Linked DNA regions of Homo sapiens: region 2 is linked to region 1. A link means that fine-mapping ties the variant in region 1 to the expression of a gene that starts in the linked region. Tissue or cell type: whole blood. Region 1 holds a variant in brackets; the other region holds the start of a gene. All regions are shown on one strand. Distances are between the middles of the regions.

Region 1 (8,104 bases):
CCATCAAGAGGCCTTCAGAGGCCGGGAGTGGCAGCTCACACCTGACATCCCAGTGCTTTGAGAGGCCAAGAAGGAAGGATCACCTGAGGCCAGGAATTCAAGACCAGCTTGGGCAACATAGCAAGACCCCGTCTCTACAAAAAAAAATCATAAAACAATCAGCCAGGCATGGTGGCACATGCCTGTAGTTCCACCTACTCGGGAGGCTGATGTGGGAGATCACTTGAGCCCAGGAGCTCAAGGTTGCAGTGAGCTGTGATCACGCCACTGCACTCCAGCTTTGGCAGCAGAGCGAGACACTGTCTGAAAAAAGAAAAAGAAGAATAAGAAGAAGACGACTTCGGCCTTTACCACAATTGGGAGAACAGAATCTTTGGGAAGGTGGTGATATCAATTAACAAAACAGATAAACTGCTGTATCGGAGGCTCTGAGTGATAGTGTTTTCAACAAGACCAGTGTTCTCATCTCTCTCCTGTAATGGCATGAGAATATGGAGTCCAGGGCTGACATGGTGCCTCCGCAGAGGCGGGACCCAGCCTCCTCTGTTCCACTCTTGCATTCTTCGATGTCAAACTCATCTTCAGGGTCCAAAATTGTGCACCGTGATGCTGACACTCCAGCCAGCGGGAAGGTGGTGAAAAGAAACGACACTTCTTCCCTCAAAGGACCTGGCTCCGAAGTTGCTCGCTTCACTGCTGCTCACATCCCATCAGCCAGAACCTCGCCAGGCAGCCACACCAGCTGCACAGGAGGTGGGGAGACGAACCCTATAACTAAGGGGCTATACGCAATATCCATTGCAGCGTAACAAACCACCACGCAGGACTGAGACATCAGTAATTGATTATTTCTCACAGTTGCATGAGGTGACAATCCAGGCAGTTCTGTGGGACTCTCCAGTGGCTGCAGGTGTTGGACAGCTGGATGGAAGGATCACAGCAGCCTCATGCATGCACAGTGGCAGTGGCCTCCGCTGTCTCCTCCATGAGTCCACTCTTTCTCCAGTGGGCCATATGGATCACGGCGTGGTGACCTCAGTGTTCCGAGGGGTGCAGGGCAGGATCTGCTGTGCTCCTAAAGGTCTAGGCTCCAGAACTCACACGACCACACTCCTACTGTATTCTATTAATCAAAGCAAACCACGGGACCAGCCCAGATTCAAAGAGGTAGACAGGCCGCACCATGTGATGTCAGGGACAGCAATGTCACACTGCAAGGGTGTAGGGCCGGGAAGCACCATTCACTGGGAGTCAGAATTGTAACCATCTCCCATGGTGGCCCAAATTAAGATTCTACTCTAAGTAGGAAAAGGAGAGTGGATACTGAAGGGATTCATTTATTCTGAAGTGAGAAATCCCCAAAAATAAAAGCAAGCAGACGTTCCTGGACTTGGCCACTTATCACCAGATTTATGGTCCTGTTTATTAGTCACTTTGTGGTCATGCTAGGGAAATCTGTCGCTTGAAATGATTGACTTTTCTAACCCATCATAAAGCTCCTATCTGGCTGAATTCAACACAAGCTTCTCATTTGAAGACGCGGAGGTGAACTCTGAGTTCACAGGACTTTAACTGCCCTGCAAAGACTGGCGGCTACAGGCACGGAGGCTGCAAGGACAGGCAACTACAGGTATGGAGGCTGCCAGGACAAGCAACTAGGTACGAAGGCTACAAGGACCAGCATGGAGGCTGCAAGGACAGGCGACTACAGACATGGAGGGTGAAAGGACAGGCGACTAAAGGTACAGAACTCTCTCTGTTCCCGGAGCAATTCAGGACTTCTGCAGATATTGAGGACTTTTATCTTTCAACATAAGGAAACACAGAAATTCTTAACAGACTTTATTTAAGTCAGGAGAGGAAATAGCAAAGAACCGTCTAAAGGTGACCGTGTTTTGTGTCACCCCCACAGATACAAAGGGCCATTGTCTCATTAGCCACCTTTTGAGGGCATCTCACTTCACTTTGAGTGAAATTGGAACTACTCACTCTGGCTTACAAAGCACTCATGCCCAAGCCCTGCCCACTCTCCCAGCCTCCCCTGCCCTCCCTTCTGCCTGGAGATCTTCTGGCCCTGCTTCAGTCAGGTGTCACCTCCCTTGGGGACCCTTCCTTCACCTCCCTAAGGAGTAAGCCCTCTCTCCTCCTGCCACATGTGAAACAAGTGTCCCTCTAAGCCATGATTTTCTTGTATTTCAATGAAGATCATGAAATTACCATTTTTTGGCTGGGCACAGTGACTCACACCTGTAATCCCAGCATTTCGGGAGGCCAAGGCAGATGGATCACCTGAGGTCAGGAGTTCAAGACCAGCCTGGCCAACATGGTGGAACCCCATCTCTACCAAAAATACAAAAAAAAAAAATTAGCCAGACATTGTGGTGCACGCCTGTAATCCCAGCTACTCAGGAGGCTGAGGCAAGATAATCACTTGAACCCGGGAGGGAGAGGTTGTAGTGAGCTGAGATCACACTACTGTACTCCAGTCTGGGCGACAGAACAAGACTCCATGAAAAAAAAGAAAGAAAGAAAGAAAGAAAGAAAGAAAGAAAGAAAGAAAGAAAGAAAGAAAGAAAGAAAGAAAGAAAGAAAGAAAGAAGGAAGGAAGGAAGGAAGGAAGGAAGGAAGGAAGGAAGGAAGGAAGGAAAGAAAGAAAGAAAAAAGAAAGGAAGGAAGGAAGGAAGGAAGGAGGAAGGAAGGAAGGAAGGAAGGAGGAAGGAAGGAAGGAAGGAAGGAAGGAAGGAAAGGAAGGAAGGAAGGAAGGGAAAGAAAGAAAGAAGGAGAAAGAAAGAAAGAAGGAGAAAGAAAGAGAGAGAGAAAGAAAAGAGAGAAAGAGAAAGAAAGAAAGAAAAGAAAGAAACATTTTTGTCCAAAAACATGTCATCAATTTCATATGCTTTAACCCAATATCATAACAGTTAAATAACAGCCACCCTCTCCCCACACTCCCTCATGCCTGTTCTGGGGCCATTCCTCTGAGGCTGTCAGGACAGTAAAAGAGAAAAGCTTTAGACCTAGGCAGAGCTGGGATTAACTCCTAGCTCCATTCCTTCCCAGCTGTATGACCTCAGGCAACTGGTATGATCTATCTAAGCCTAGGTTTCCTCATAAGTGAAATTCATGTAAATACCAAGGACTGGTGTGAGGATTAGAGAGGATGTATGTTCAGGCCAGGCTAGTGTTTACTGTGTTTGCAAAGTATGAGGGACAGGCACTGGGCATCCTCCCTCTGAGGAAGCAGCCACCAAAATGTCACCTGCACACACCTTGGCAGCAAGTGCTCCTGGTGCCCTGACCTGAACCAAAGGCACCGTGTCAGGGGCTGTGTTCACCTGTCAAACATCCAGCCAGCAGCACTGGTATCACTTTCTCTGGCCACTAGAGCCCACTCTCCTCACACTCAGGGCAGGCCAGAAGTGGTAGGAAATTAACACACTCTCCCCACCAAGAGCAGCCCTCATCCAATAGCTAAGTGGAATCGGTGTCTATGCGCTCCAGCCTTCTCCCCTGGGTGGGGTGATACTGAGGTGCGTGTTCTGCACTGCCTCCGAGAACTGCCCAGTGGGGTGAAGCTCCAGGAACTCACAGCAGCTTCTCTGTGGGTGATACACCTGTTATTGGCAGCCTTCCCTTCCTCGGTATTTCCTGGAGCCATCTCTTTATTTTATTTTATTTTATTTATTTTTTTTTTTTTAAGATGGAGTCCTGCTCTGTCGCCCAGGCTGGAGTGCAGTGATGCAATCATATCTCACTGCAACCTCTACCTCCCAGGTTAAAGCAATTCTCCTTCCTCAGCCTCCCAAGTAGCTGAGATTACAGTTGCCTGCCACCATGCATGGCTAATTTTTTTGTATTTTTAGTAGAGACGGGGTTTCACCAAGTTCGACAGGCTGGTCTCAAACTCCTGAGATCAGGTGATCCACCAGCCTCGGCCTCCCAAAGTTCTGGGATTACAGAGGCGTGAGCCACTGTGCCCGACCTTTATTTTATTATTTTGTTTATTTTTGAGACAGGATCTCACTCTGTCACCCAGGCTGGAGTGCAGTGGTGCGATCATGGCTCACTGCAGTCTAGACCTTCTGGGCTCAAGTAATCCTCCTGCATCAGCCTCCGGAGTAGCTGTGACTACAGGCATGTAACACCAGGCCTGGCTAAATTTTTTTAATTTTTCGTGGACACAGGTTCTCACTATGTTGCCCAGGCTAGTCTCGAACTCCTGAGCTCAAGCAATCTTCACACCTTCACCTCCCAAAATGCTGGGATTTCAGGTGTGAGCCACCATGCCTGGCCTGCCACCTCTTAAATACGCTTGTTTCACCCAAATTCTTGGGTTTGCTTCTGGGAGAACCCAAACTTCCAGGAACATATCCTATAAATTATCCTTACATATATGCAAAAATGACATATATTTGATTTATTAACTCAGCATTGATGCAATAACAAGAGAATGAAAATAGTATATCAAAAGAAGACTGGTTAAATACATTATGGTACACTCACACAATGGAATACTATGCAGCGGTATAAAAGAATGAAAAAGTAATTTATGTCTTAATATGAACCGATGTCTGAGAAATATTGGTGAAAAAAAGCAAGATACAGACCAATATAAAGTATGCTACCATTTGTGTAAAAAAGCTTGTGTGTGTGTATGTGTGGTGTGTGTGCACACGTGCATACACTTGCACATCGCCTGGAATCTGTCTGAAGGAAACCTCAAAACACAATCTTGACTACCTTTAAGGAGGTGACTTGAATATCTGGAAAGGGAGACTTTTCACTGTACACTTGAATGCCTTGTGATTTTTGTACCATAGACAAGCTTATCCATCCAAAAAATTAAAGTCACATTGAAATAATAAATGAATCCAGAAAGGAAGCTTCATCATTCCTCAGTGGGCATCTTTATTGGGCATCAG[C/G]GCTGGTGTGGAGGAGGTTCCTGGTTCCACCCACGGCTTCTCATGGAGTCTCCATCCAAGCTGCGCAGGCTCCAGCAGGCCGCAGGCTCGCAGGCGACGGGAAGTCCCACTTCTTTCAGTGGAGAGAAGCTGCTGTGTTTCCCTCTGTCTTCACCCACAGGATTGACCGTCCCCTCTCCCGGAGGAAAACCCAGCAGCGGCTTCACCCACGCACAAGGGAGCCCAGGCAGTTCCCTTCTGCCGGAGAGGCTACGCTGCCGTCACCTACCCACACGCCAGAGACATCTGAGTCACACACGTGAGCCACACGCCCCTGAGCACACACATGCACACACTCGCACACATGCACACACTTGCACACACATGGACACACGCACACACACTTGGACACACTCACATACTTGCACACACTCACACATGGGCGTGCAAGTGCACATGCACGCACACGCACACATGTGCACACACTTGCACACAGACACTTGCACACACGCACATACACACTTGCACACACACAAATGGAAGCCCAAGCCCGTCCTGTCGGGGATACTTCGCTGTCCGACGTGTCCAGCAGCCTGGGGGCTACGTGTGGTCTGGGCAGAGTCCTGCTGGCCACCGAGAGGCAGCTCTGTCGGGAAGGAGCCGCTACTGGGGTTCGGCCCCCGGGGGACCCCCTTCACTCATCATGTCCTTGTATTGCCGCTTGAAGAAGCCGAGCTGCGGGGCAGAGGAGGGCAGTGAGAGCGACAGCAGCCAGGGAGCGTGCGGCTCCGCAGACCAGGGGGAGGGGGCGGGAGGGCCGGCAGAGACAGAAGGGACCCAGGAGGGCGGGGCGGGAGGGGAGTGACATCCGCGTCGGGGCCTGGAGAAAAACAGAAACTACAAGGAGGGCGACTCGTTCTCAGCGCGCCCCGCGCATGAACCCGGCCACCCTCCCTAAGAGACTGAGGCGCAGAGAGGCTCCCAGACTCGCCCCAGTCACACAGCTGGCAGCCCCGCCGGGGAAACCGAGGCACGGAGCTGCAGCGCGAGGCCCGAGAGGATGAAGGGAGGGGGTGGGGGAGCAGCGGGGAGCACCTTGTACAGCGCGGCGGTGATGAGGGCCAGGAGCAGCAGTCCCCCGACAGAGCTGCCCACGATGAGCGGCAGGGGGTTGGGGACCTCGAACGGCTCCACTTTGGTCTCCGTCTGGGGGAGGAAGGAGGGGCGTCAGGGGAGACGACTCTGGATTTCTGGGGGTTCCCCATTCACACCGTGTGCACCCCTGAATCAAGTGGGGAACCCCTCCTCATGTCCCCCAGAACCCCAGCCCTCAGTCCTCCTCCCCCACCTCTTCTCCCTCCTCTCCCTCCTCCGTTTCTCTGTCCTCTATCTCTCTCTATCGCTTTCTGCCTCTCTCTGTCTCTCTATCTCCATGGCTCACTGTCTCTGTCTCTGTCGCGCTCTGTATCTCTCTCTTTATCTCTATCTCTCTGTCTATCTCCATCTCTCACTGTCTCTGTCTCTATCTCTATCTCTCTGACTCTCTATCTCTCTCTCCTTTGTCTGTCTCTGTGTCTGTTTCTCCCTCTGCCTCTATCTCTCTGTCTCTGTCTGTCTCTCTCCTTACGTCTCTGTATCTCTCTGTCTCTCTGTCGCTCTGTCTCTCTCTCTCCCTCTCTCTTTGTGTCTCTCTCTCCTCCCCCAGAAATCTCCACAAGCGCAGCCCCTCTCCCTCCAATAGTTCCTCAGCGCCCAAGACAGGTACCTGGGACCTCACAAACGCCCCCTGTCCCGGCAGCAGGGTGAACACGGAATCGTTAAACAAGATCTCAGCTGTGCTCACGATCAGGAGGTGGTTATGCGAGGTCTGTGGAAGAGAGCGGGTGGGCACTGCACCTGGGCCCTGAGCACCACGCCTGTGCCCGGCGAAGCCTCAGGACCCCACACACCTTGATGTACCAGTCAAACGAGAGGTTGCCTTTGAGGGTAGCATTGAATTCTTCCTGGATGCCAAAGAACGGGATGTCACACTGGATTCTCTGGCAGACAGCGATGGAGCAGTTCTGGGGAACGCAGGAGGGGAGGGGACGGGTAAGGAAGCCGAAGGCAGAGAACACCCCTCCCCGTTTGCTCAGAGACCATACAGGTTCCAGCAGGGAAGCGCTCTGGGTCTCTGTGTGGCCCTGGGGCTGACTTAGCTTCTCACCACCACGGGGGCCTTCCGAAGCTCAGCCAGAAAGTCGGAGTGAGAGGGCAAGCGCTCCTTGGTGTGGCACGTACTCGAGAGGTTCTGAGGAAAGAGACGCACTGAGAAGGGGCAGAGATGAAGGCGCCAGGGCCTCATCTCGGGAGGTGAGATGGCCTGGGTCCAGGAGAGGGGCGGAGCGGCTCTAAAACCCAATAGCATTAACAGAGGTGAGAGGAACGCGCAGGGCCGTGCAGGAGTCAGGCCGAGCTCCGCTCACCTCGGAGAAGGTGACCTGGGGGCGGTCCCATATGACAGTCTGGTTCAGCCGGACGGGCACCAAGAACACCAGGCTGATGGGGAGGCTCCTCTGCCCCAGGTTGCTGACCTGCACCGGGGAGGGCGGGGTCAGGGCTCTGGCCTTCCTCCCCCACCAGCCTGGAGAATCAGCCTCCCCTCCCCACGGGGCAGGCCATAGGCCCGGGCGTCCTGCCCCTTCCTGTTTGAGAGAGTAGAGTGTACATGTAATACGCATTCCAGTGCCACACGGCCTGGTCTCCAGTCCTAGCTCTCCCACTTACTCGGTGGGAGACCTCGAGCTTGTTCTGTAAACCTCTCTGAGCCTCAGTTTCTTCATCTGTAAACTGGGGATCATGACAGTGCCCCACAGAGTCGCTACGAAGGTAATACAAGATAACTACGTGCGTGCATGTCACATACATACGTGCGTGTATGTGTGCATACTGAGTGATAGCAGCGTGGAACCAAGCCTGGCACACCACAGGTGCCTTGCGCACATTTCCCATCCCTGTTTCTGCATTTTCTACCATCGATTTTCCTCCCCAGCCTCCTTCTCAGGACCCAGACGTCCCAGCTGCCCACCTGATATTGATGCTGCATGACCCGACTGGTATTCTCTGAGGCCGTGAAGTTGAGATATTTAGTGGAGACCCCATGGCTGAAGGGAGAAAAAAGGGACAGGAGGTGACAAAACATGAGGGGTGCCCTGGGAGGGTGTCTC
Region 2 (8,104 bases), 74 kb after region 1:
GGCTCAAGCCTGTAATCCCAGCACTTTGGGAGGCCGAGGCAGGTGGATCACCTGAGCTCAGGAGTTCAAGACCAACCTGGCCAACATGGTGAAACCCTGTCTCTACAAAAATACAAAAATTAGCCAGGCGTGGTGGCAGGCACCTGCAATCCAAGCTACTCAGGAGGCTGAGGCAGGAGAATCGATTGAACCCAGGAGGCAGAAGTCGCAGTGAGCCAAGATCATGCCACTGCACTCCAGCCTGGGCGACAGAGGGAGTCTCTAAAAAAATAAAATAAAATAAATTATAGCATCTCCCAATTATGGCATGCAATGCAAGCATAACATGGGATTAATGGACTCAAATCACTGGGCTGTATTATGGGAGATAAAGCAAAGAGCAGAGACCAGCCCCCTTCTTCTGGAAAGGTACTATCACCTCCACAATTACTGTTTCTGTAAAGGTAAATGTTTTAGGCTTCAGGGTCCATACAATCTCTATCACAGCTCCTGAATTCTGCCATTACAGCTCAAAAGTGGCCATAGCCAGGCACAGTGGTTTACACCTATCATCCCAGCAAGTTGGGAGGCCCAAGCAAGAGGATGACTTGAGGCCAGGAGTTTGAGACCAGATTGGGCAACAGAGTGAGACCTCGTCTATACAAAAAAAATCAAAAAATTAGCCAGGTGTGGTGGCACATGCCTGTAGTCCCAGCTACTCAGGAGGCTAAGGTGGGAGGATTGCTTGAGCCCAGGAGTTTGAGTCTACAGTGAGCTATGATTTCACCTGTGCACTCCAGGCTGAATGACAGAACAAGACCATGTCAGAAAGGAAAGAAAGAAATGAAGGAAGGAAGGAAGGAAGGAAGGAAGGAAGGAAGGAAGGAAGGAAGGAAGGAAGGAAGGAAGGATGGAAGGGAGGGAAGGGAGGGAAGGAGGGAAAGAGGGAAGCAGGGAATGAGAGAGGGAGGAAGGAAGGAAGGAAAGAAGGAAGGAAGGAAGGAAGGGAGGAAGGGAGGGAAGGGCAATAAACAGTAAGAGACAAGTGGACGGAGTTGTTTTCAATAAAATTCATTCACAAAAATAGGCGGCAGCCTGCAGGCAGGCCTTAATTTCAGTACAATGTATACTACACATGGTGTGTTGGCTGAGGGAGGGAACGTGTATGTGTTATGCACACACAGAGTCTCCCCGAAGGAACACCCAGGAAACCATTTGTGAGGTCCCTCCTGGGAAGGGAACTAGGGGAAGGGAGTAAGGAAGAGATTTTTACTCTTACACCCTTTTGCATCTTTTGAATTTAGAATACTGTAAATTCAAAAGATGAATTTGTTGTATATTTTGAATTGATTTATCTGTTGAAAAAGATCACTCAAATCGCTGATTTTTTTCAGGTATGTAAGTCTTGGAGAGAAAGCACTGAGAAAGGGGGCTCCATCTAAGGGTCTCACCTGGATCCCTGAAGCTGGACCACGCTCTGCCCGAAGCCCCTTGCGTTCTCTTGGAAGGTCATTGCGTTTTCAGTGTCCAAGTTGAACCCATGACATAAGGTCAAGGCTAAAGGGAGAATGGGGGAAGGATCAAGCAGAGGAAAGTAGCATGCCAGTTAGGGGCTGTAGTCCTAGCACTTTGGAGGGCTGAGGCAGGAGGATCACTTGAGCCCTGATTGTGCCACTGCACTCCAGCCTGAGCAACAGAGAGAGATCCTATCTCAAAATTAAATACAAAAAAAAAACAAAAACTAATAATAATTTAAAAGAAAGCAATGGCTGGGTGTGGTGGCTCAGGCCTGTTATCCCAATAATTTAAGAGGCTGACGTGGGAGGATCACCTGGGCTCAGGAGTTTAAGACCAGCCTAGGCAACACAGTGAGACCCCATCTCTACAAAAAATAAAAAATTAGCCGGGTGTAGTGGTACTCAGGAGGCTGAGGTGGGAGGATTGCTTGAACCCAGGAGGTCAAGGCTGCAGTGAACCATGATCATGCCACTGCACTACAGCCTGGGCAACAGAGAAAGACCCTGTATCAAAAAAAAAAAAAAAAAAAAAAGATAGCAGCATGTCTTCCTGCTCCATTCCCTTTCCCATCCATTCGGTCACCCTAACTAACCCAGCATCCAGATGTCTGCCTCCCAGGTCCAGCTCTGTTAGCCTGGGGCGGGGATTAGCACACTTATTCTGTAAACAGCCAGATAGTAAATTTTAGGTTTTGCAGACCAAGAGGCTGATAGAATATGTTGTACAAGTACTTATATAACAAGACAGAAAATACTTTTCCACAAATTTGTCATTAGGGAAATTTCAAACATAATGATTGAGTACAATTTGTTTGTAATACGGGTTTACAAATGAGACAAATAGAATTCTTTGGGGGTGGTGCTCCCTATCATCAAATCGATTATCAGTGTTCATCTTCAATCTCTAGCTGGCAGGTTGTGCAAAAACAGGTCGTGGGCCATATCGGGCCCCCAGGCCACTGTTTGCTGACTCCTGACCTAAGAACCACCGTCGTGGGGCACGTCCAGTCCTGCTCTGAATTCCAGCCTCCCTTCTGAGCACCTAAATGGCTTCTTCCCCCGGTGTCACAACGATGATTTGCCCAACAGTGAAGTTTCTATACATTCTTAATTAGATAATTTCCTTCCTATGCAGCTCTCAAGTATTTCCTTCCCTTTTGAGGAGAATTTCATTTTCCACAACATATAAGCATAAAAGGTAACAAACTCAAATCATTTTCATTCATCAGTCATTCAACAAACATTTGCACCCGGGACCTTGGAAAATAGAACCGGAGGCAAAGTGGAGATGGTGAGAGGGGATCCAGGAGGAAGCACTCAGGAAAGGGGTCTCACACCTGCTGCGCACCCTGAGCCATGTCACTTCTCCTCCCTGGGCCTCCGTCTCCTCATGTGTGAAGCAAGGGGACCGGCAAGCAGCCTTGCACAGTCCATGAATGTGGTCATTCATCCAGGCTTCCCTGGCCAGCCTGTCTGGGTCTAGCTGTTCTCCCTGCTTCTTCTTGAACCCTTTCTCCTTCCCCAAATCCCCTTTGCCTCTCCCCAGACTGACTCCTACATATTCTGGGCCCTCTATTTATGACAGACCCAAAAGTTACCCTCCTCCCCACCCAGAGTCCCCCACCCCACCCCCATGCACCTGTTAACAGAAGGACTCTGAGAGCCATGGCTGGAAGGAGCCAGAACCTGGAAGGAGGTGAACCAGGGGTTGCAGGCACCACTGAGGAACCACAAGGAAGCCACCAAAGCAAAGAAGGGCAGAAAAGGAGAAGTAGGAGGCAGAAGTCTATCAGAGATTCAAAGGAAGAGGGCGGAGGCTCAGTGAGCACATAGCCCTGCCTGGTCTTCCGCCCAGGACTGCCCACAGCCTGCCCACCCTTCCTCCCCAGCTTCCTGACCCAAACTTTCAAAGTCAATACCACTATCCAAAAGGTGCCATTTGTCACCCACTTGTTTCTTGGGTTGGCCCAAGCATATGAACAAGCTGAACAGACTTAGCCTGCCTCCTGGAATTCGTGTTCTAAACATTAATACGGGCCAGGCGCAGTGGCTCACGCCTGTAATGCCAGCACTTTGGGAGGCCAAGGCAGGAGGATTGCTTGAGCCTGGGAGTTTGAAACCAGCCTGGGCAACATAGAGAGACCCTGTCTCTACAAAAAAATATTTTTAATTAGCTGGGCATGGTGGTGCGCGCCTGTAGCCCCTGCTACTGGACAGGCTGAGGTGTGAGAATTACTTGAGCCCGAGGTCCAGGCTGCAGTGAGCTAGGATCACACCACTGCACTCCAGCCTGGGCAACATAGGGAGACCCCGACTCTACAAAAAAATACATTTAAAAAATTAGCCAGGCATGGTGGCACATGCCTGTAGTCCTAGCTACTCCAGAGGCTGAGGCAGGAGGATTGTTTGAGCTCAGGAGTCTGAGACTGCAATGAGCCTCAATAATGCCACTGCACTCCAGCCCAGGTGACAGAGTGAGACTCTGTCTCAAAAAAAAAATTAAATAAATAAATAAGCAAACATTAATACAGATCAAACAAGTGTAGGAGGTAAAACTCTGTGTCTTCCTGAAAACACACTTTGCAAAATGTCCCTCCTTCAGCCCATGGAAATGGAAGCGCCCTTCAGCCAGAGCTGTCCTCATTTGTAGCCATCAACAAAGACAACTCAAGTACAGGCATACCTGGTGCTTTTTAAATATTATTTTGTGCTTTTTTTAGAGACAGAGTCTAGCTCTGTTGCCCAGGCTGGAGTGCAGTGGTGTAATCACAGCTCACTGCAGCTTCAATCAACCTCCTGGGCTCAAGCGATCCTCCTACCTCAGCCTTCCGAGTAGCTGGTACTACAGGCACATGCTGCCATGGCCAGCTAATTTTTTTTAAATTTTTTGTAGAGACAAGATCTTGCTATGTTGTTCAGGCTATTCTCAACCTCCTGGACTCAAGTGATCCTCCTTCCTCAGCCTCCCAAACTGCTGAGATTACAGGTGTGAGCCACTGCATCCAGCCTATTTTTGTGTGTGTGTGTGTGTGTGTGTGTAAAGGCCTCAAGCTCTTCACCCAAGAATTTTCACTTCTAGTAATTTATCCTAAGAATAGTTAAGAAGTGTAGTCAAAAATATATGTACAAACTTGGCTGGGTGCGGTGGCTCATGCCTGTAATCCTAGCATTTTGGGAGGCTGAGGCGGGGTGGCTCACTTGAGGTCAGCAATTGAAACCAGCCTGCCCAACATGGTGAAACCTCATCTTTACTAAAAAGACAAAAAAATTAGCCAGGCGTGGTGGCAGGCACCTGTAATCCCACCTGGGAGGCTGAGGCAGCAGAATCACTTGAACCCTGGAGGCGGAGGTTGCAGTGAGCAGAGATTGTGCCACTGCACTCCAGCCTAGGCGACAGAGCAAGACTCTTATCTCTAAAAAAAAAAAAATATATATATATATATATATTTGCAAGCTTGTTCATTGCAGCATTATTGTTAATATGAAAAGCTAAAAAAACCTGAATATTCAACAGAGGAATGGTTCAATGATACTTCACTCTGTGATATATCCTTACCCTCCCCTGTGTCTGTCACTTTTAATTCTGTTTTCAAAGGCACAGGAAAATAGGTATCCTTCCACACATACATGGAACACAAACCTCACCTTTATGTGACCGCCAATGTGATTCTCAAGCCAATGATTTTTTTCACTCTTTCTCAACACATTTTCTTTTTTTTTTTTTTTTTTTTTTTGTGAAACGGAGTCTCCCTCTGTCGCCCAGGCTGGAGTGCAGTGGCGTGATCTCAGCTCACTGCAACCTCTGCCTCCCGAGTTCAAGTGATTCTCCTGCCTCAGCCTCCCGAGTAGCTGAGAATACAGGTGCTTGCCACCACGCCTGGCTAATTTTTTGTATTTTCAGTAGAGACAGGGTTTCACCATTCAACACATTTTCTTTTGCCTCTAGTTCTACTTTCCCGATAACTAGATGGAAAAAAATGCTTGCTGGCTGAAAAAAAAAAAAGCAATTAAAATTATGTACATTTGGTTAAAAATTATCTGTTTATAATTTTTATATATAGCCAGGTGTGGTGACTCCTGCTTGTAATCTCAGCACATTGGGAGGCCAAGGCAGAGGGATCATTTGAGCTCAGGAACTCAAGACCAGCCTGGGCAACACAGCAAGACCCTGACTCTACAAAAAAATGTTTAAAAATTAGCTGGGCATAGTGATGCACACCTGTGGTCCCAGCTACTCAACAGGCTGAGGTGGGAGGATCGCTTGAGCCAAGGAGGTTGAGGCTGCAGTGAGATATGATTGCACCACTGCACTCCAGCCTGGAAAACAGAGCCAGACCCTGTCTCTAAAATATATATAGGCAGGGCATGTAATATATACAGGCACGCCTGTAATCCCAGCACTTCGGGAGGCTGAGGTGGGAGGATCACCTGAGATTAGGAGTTCAAGACCAGCCTGGCCAACATGGTGAAACCCCATCTCTACTAAAAATACAACAATTAGCCAGGCGTGGTGGCAGGCACCTGTAATCCTAGTTACTTGGGAGGCTGAGGCAGGAGAATCACTTGAACCTGGGAGGTGGAGGTTGCAGTGAGCTGAGATTGCACCATTGCACTCCAGCCTGGGCAATAGAGCTTGACTCAGTTTCAAAAAATAAAAAATTAAAATTAAATAAATAAGTACATACATACAAAAATAAATCATATATATATATATATATATATATATATATATATATATATATATATGCAGGAAAACCAAATGTTAATAGTCGTTATCTCCAAGATAGGAGGATTACAGGTATGTTCCAGTATCTATTGCTGCAGAGCGAGCTACTCCAAAACTTCATAGTTAAAAACAGCAGCATATTATAATCTCTCGCGTATCTGTGAATCTCCTGGCCTCAGCAGTTCTCAGCGGGGTCTCTCACATGATTGCAGTCGGATCACAACCAGGGCTAGAGTAATCCAAAGCTCAGTTGGGCTGGGCTCCCAAAATGGGTCACTCCCACAGCTGGCAGTTGGCCGTGGGCTAGGAGCTCAGTTGGGGCTGTCACCTGGGCACCCCCACGTGCCCTCTCCATGTGGCTTGGGCTTCTCGCAGCATGGTGGCTGGACTTCAAGAGCAAGTGTTCCAACAGACAGGAAGCAGAAATTTCCAGGCTACTAAGGTCTTGATCTGGAAACTGGCGCCAAGTCATCTGCACCACATTCCATTGATCAGGCAGTCACAGAGCTCATCCACATTCAAGCAAAGGGGACACAGATCCCACCTCCCAATGGGAGGAATTTGTGGTTGTATTCAATCTGCTACAAGATGACTTTAATATTCTTTTCTATATCATTTGTACTTAAAATATTTATATAGGCTGGGTGCAGTGGCTCATGCCTGTGATCCCAATGCTGTGGGAGGCCAAGGCAAGAGGATCACTTGAGCCCAGGAGTTTGAGGCTACAGTGAGCTATGACCTCAACACTGCACTCCAGCCTGGGCAACAGAGCAAGACCATGTCTCAAAGAGAAAAAAAAAAAAGACCTTTATACAAAAAAAAGACTCATAATCATAAAAAATACCAATAGATAATTTAAAACAACAGGTTACCTGTATTTGTTAGCAGGTAAAGAAGCTGAGGAAAGGACGAACGAAGTCATGAGCCCAAGATGAGAAGATACCAACCAGGGTGCCCGGGGAGGAGTTTAGTAGATCAGCTGGGTTTGCTTTGGGAAAAGTTTTCACACTCTGGCCACTATGGGGGCTGCTCGAACTCAGACGTGGAGGCCCCTCCTTGCCCTGAACAGTGGCCAAGGGTCCACTCTCTGTAAAAACATAGGCAAGATCTCAGACTGGCTGTCCAACCTGCAGAGGCTTTCTCAATGAGCCACCACCAAGTGTGCACCTGACCTGGTGACCGTGGGTGGGGACATATCTATAAGCTGTTGGCTGTTCCCTCCTACCTGTCCCCCATCCCCACTCTTGATAAAATCTTAGCTTGATTTCCCCTATAAGTGGACTCTGAGACAAGGCTTCAAGTGTAAGTAATTTATCTGGAAGGTGATTCCGGAAACACTGGTGGGAAAGTGAGGAAAAGAAGGAGCTAATGCCAGGCACAATGGCTCACTGCCTGTAATACCAGCACTTTGGGAGTCCAGAGTGGGAGGATCGCTTGAGCCCAGGAGTTCAAGACCAACCTGGGCAACATAGGAAGATTCTGTCTCTTAAAAAAAATTTTTTTTTAATTATCTAGTGTGGTGGTATGCACATGTAGTCCCAGCTACTCAGGAAGCTGAGGCAGGAGGATCACTTGCACCCAAGGGGTCGAGGTTGCAGTGAGCTATGATCATGCCACCATACACTGTACTCTAGCCTGGGCAACATAATAAGACCCCGTCTCTTAAATTTTTTTAATTAAATAAATAATTAATTAATTAAACATTAATATGTATCAAACAGGTGTGGGAAATCAAACTATCTCCCTGAAAACGCACTTCGCAAAATGTCCCTTGGACATTTTGAGCCCAAGTGTTGGAGGCTGCAGTGAGCCATGATCACACTACTGCACTCCAGCCTGGGCAACAGAGTGAGACCTTGTCTCAAAAAAAAAAAGAAGGAAG

The links. PIP is the estimated chance that this variant, and not a neighbour inherited with it, causes the effect.
Region 2: it holds the start of ITGAM, and the variant in region 1 is fine-mapped to the expression of ITGAM in whole blood (TOPMed, PIP above 0.99).

Annotation. Positions count from the first base shown.
Region 1 is chr16:31,329,165-31,337,268 of GRCh38, reverse strand. ITGAM (integrin subunit alpha M) reads right to left here. Exons shown (of 30, transcript NM_000632.4): 24 at 7,966-8,041; 25 at 7,364-7,471; 26 at 7,105-7,188; 27 at 6,848-6,961; 28 at 6,664-6,765; 29 at 5,994-6,104; 30 at 4,392-5,633. The coding sequence ends at 5,562. Among named protein-coding and RNA genes, the nearest start is that of ITGAX, 22 kb to the left of the region's middle. RefSeq lists a silencer at 5,712-5,791. The variant C/G (reference allele first, on the strand shown) is at 4,920.
Region 2 is chr16:31,255,124-31,263,227 of GRCh38, reverse strand. It overlaps ITGAM (integrin subunit alpha M), which reads right to left and starts at 3,253. Exons shown (of 30, transcript NM_000632.4): 1 at 3,136-3,253; 2 at 1,431-1,536. The coding sequence starts at 3,163. RefSeq lists an enhancer at 3,397-3,496.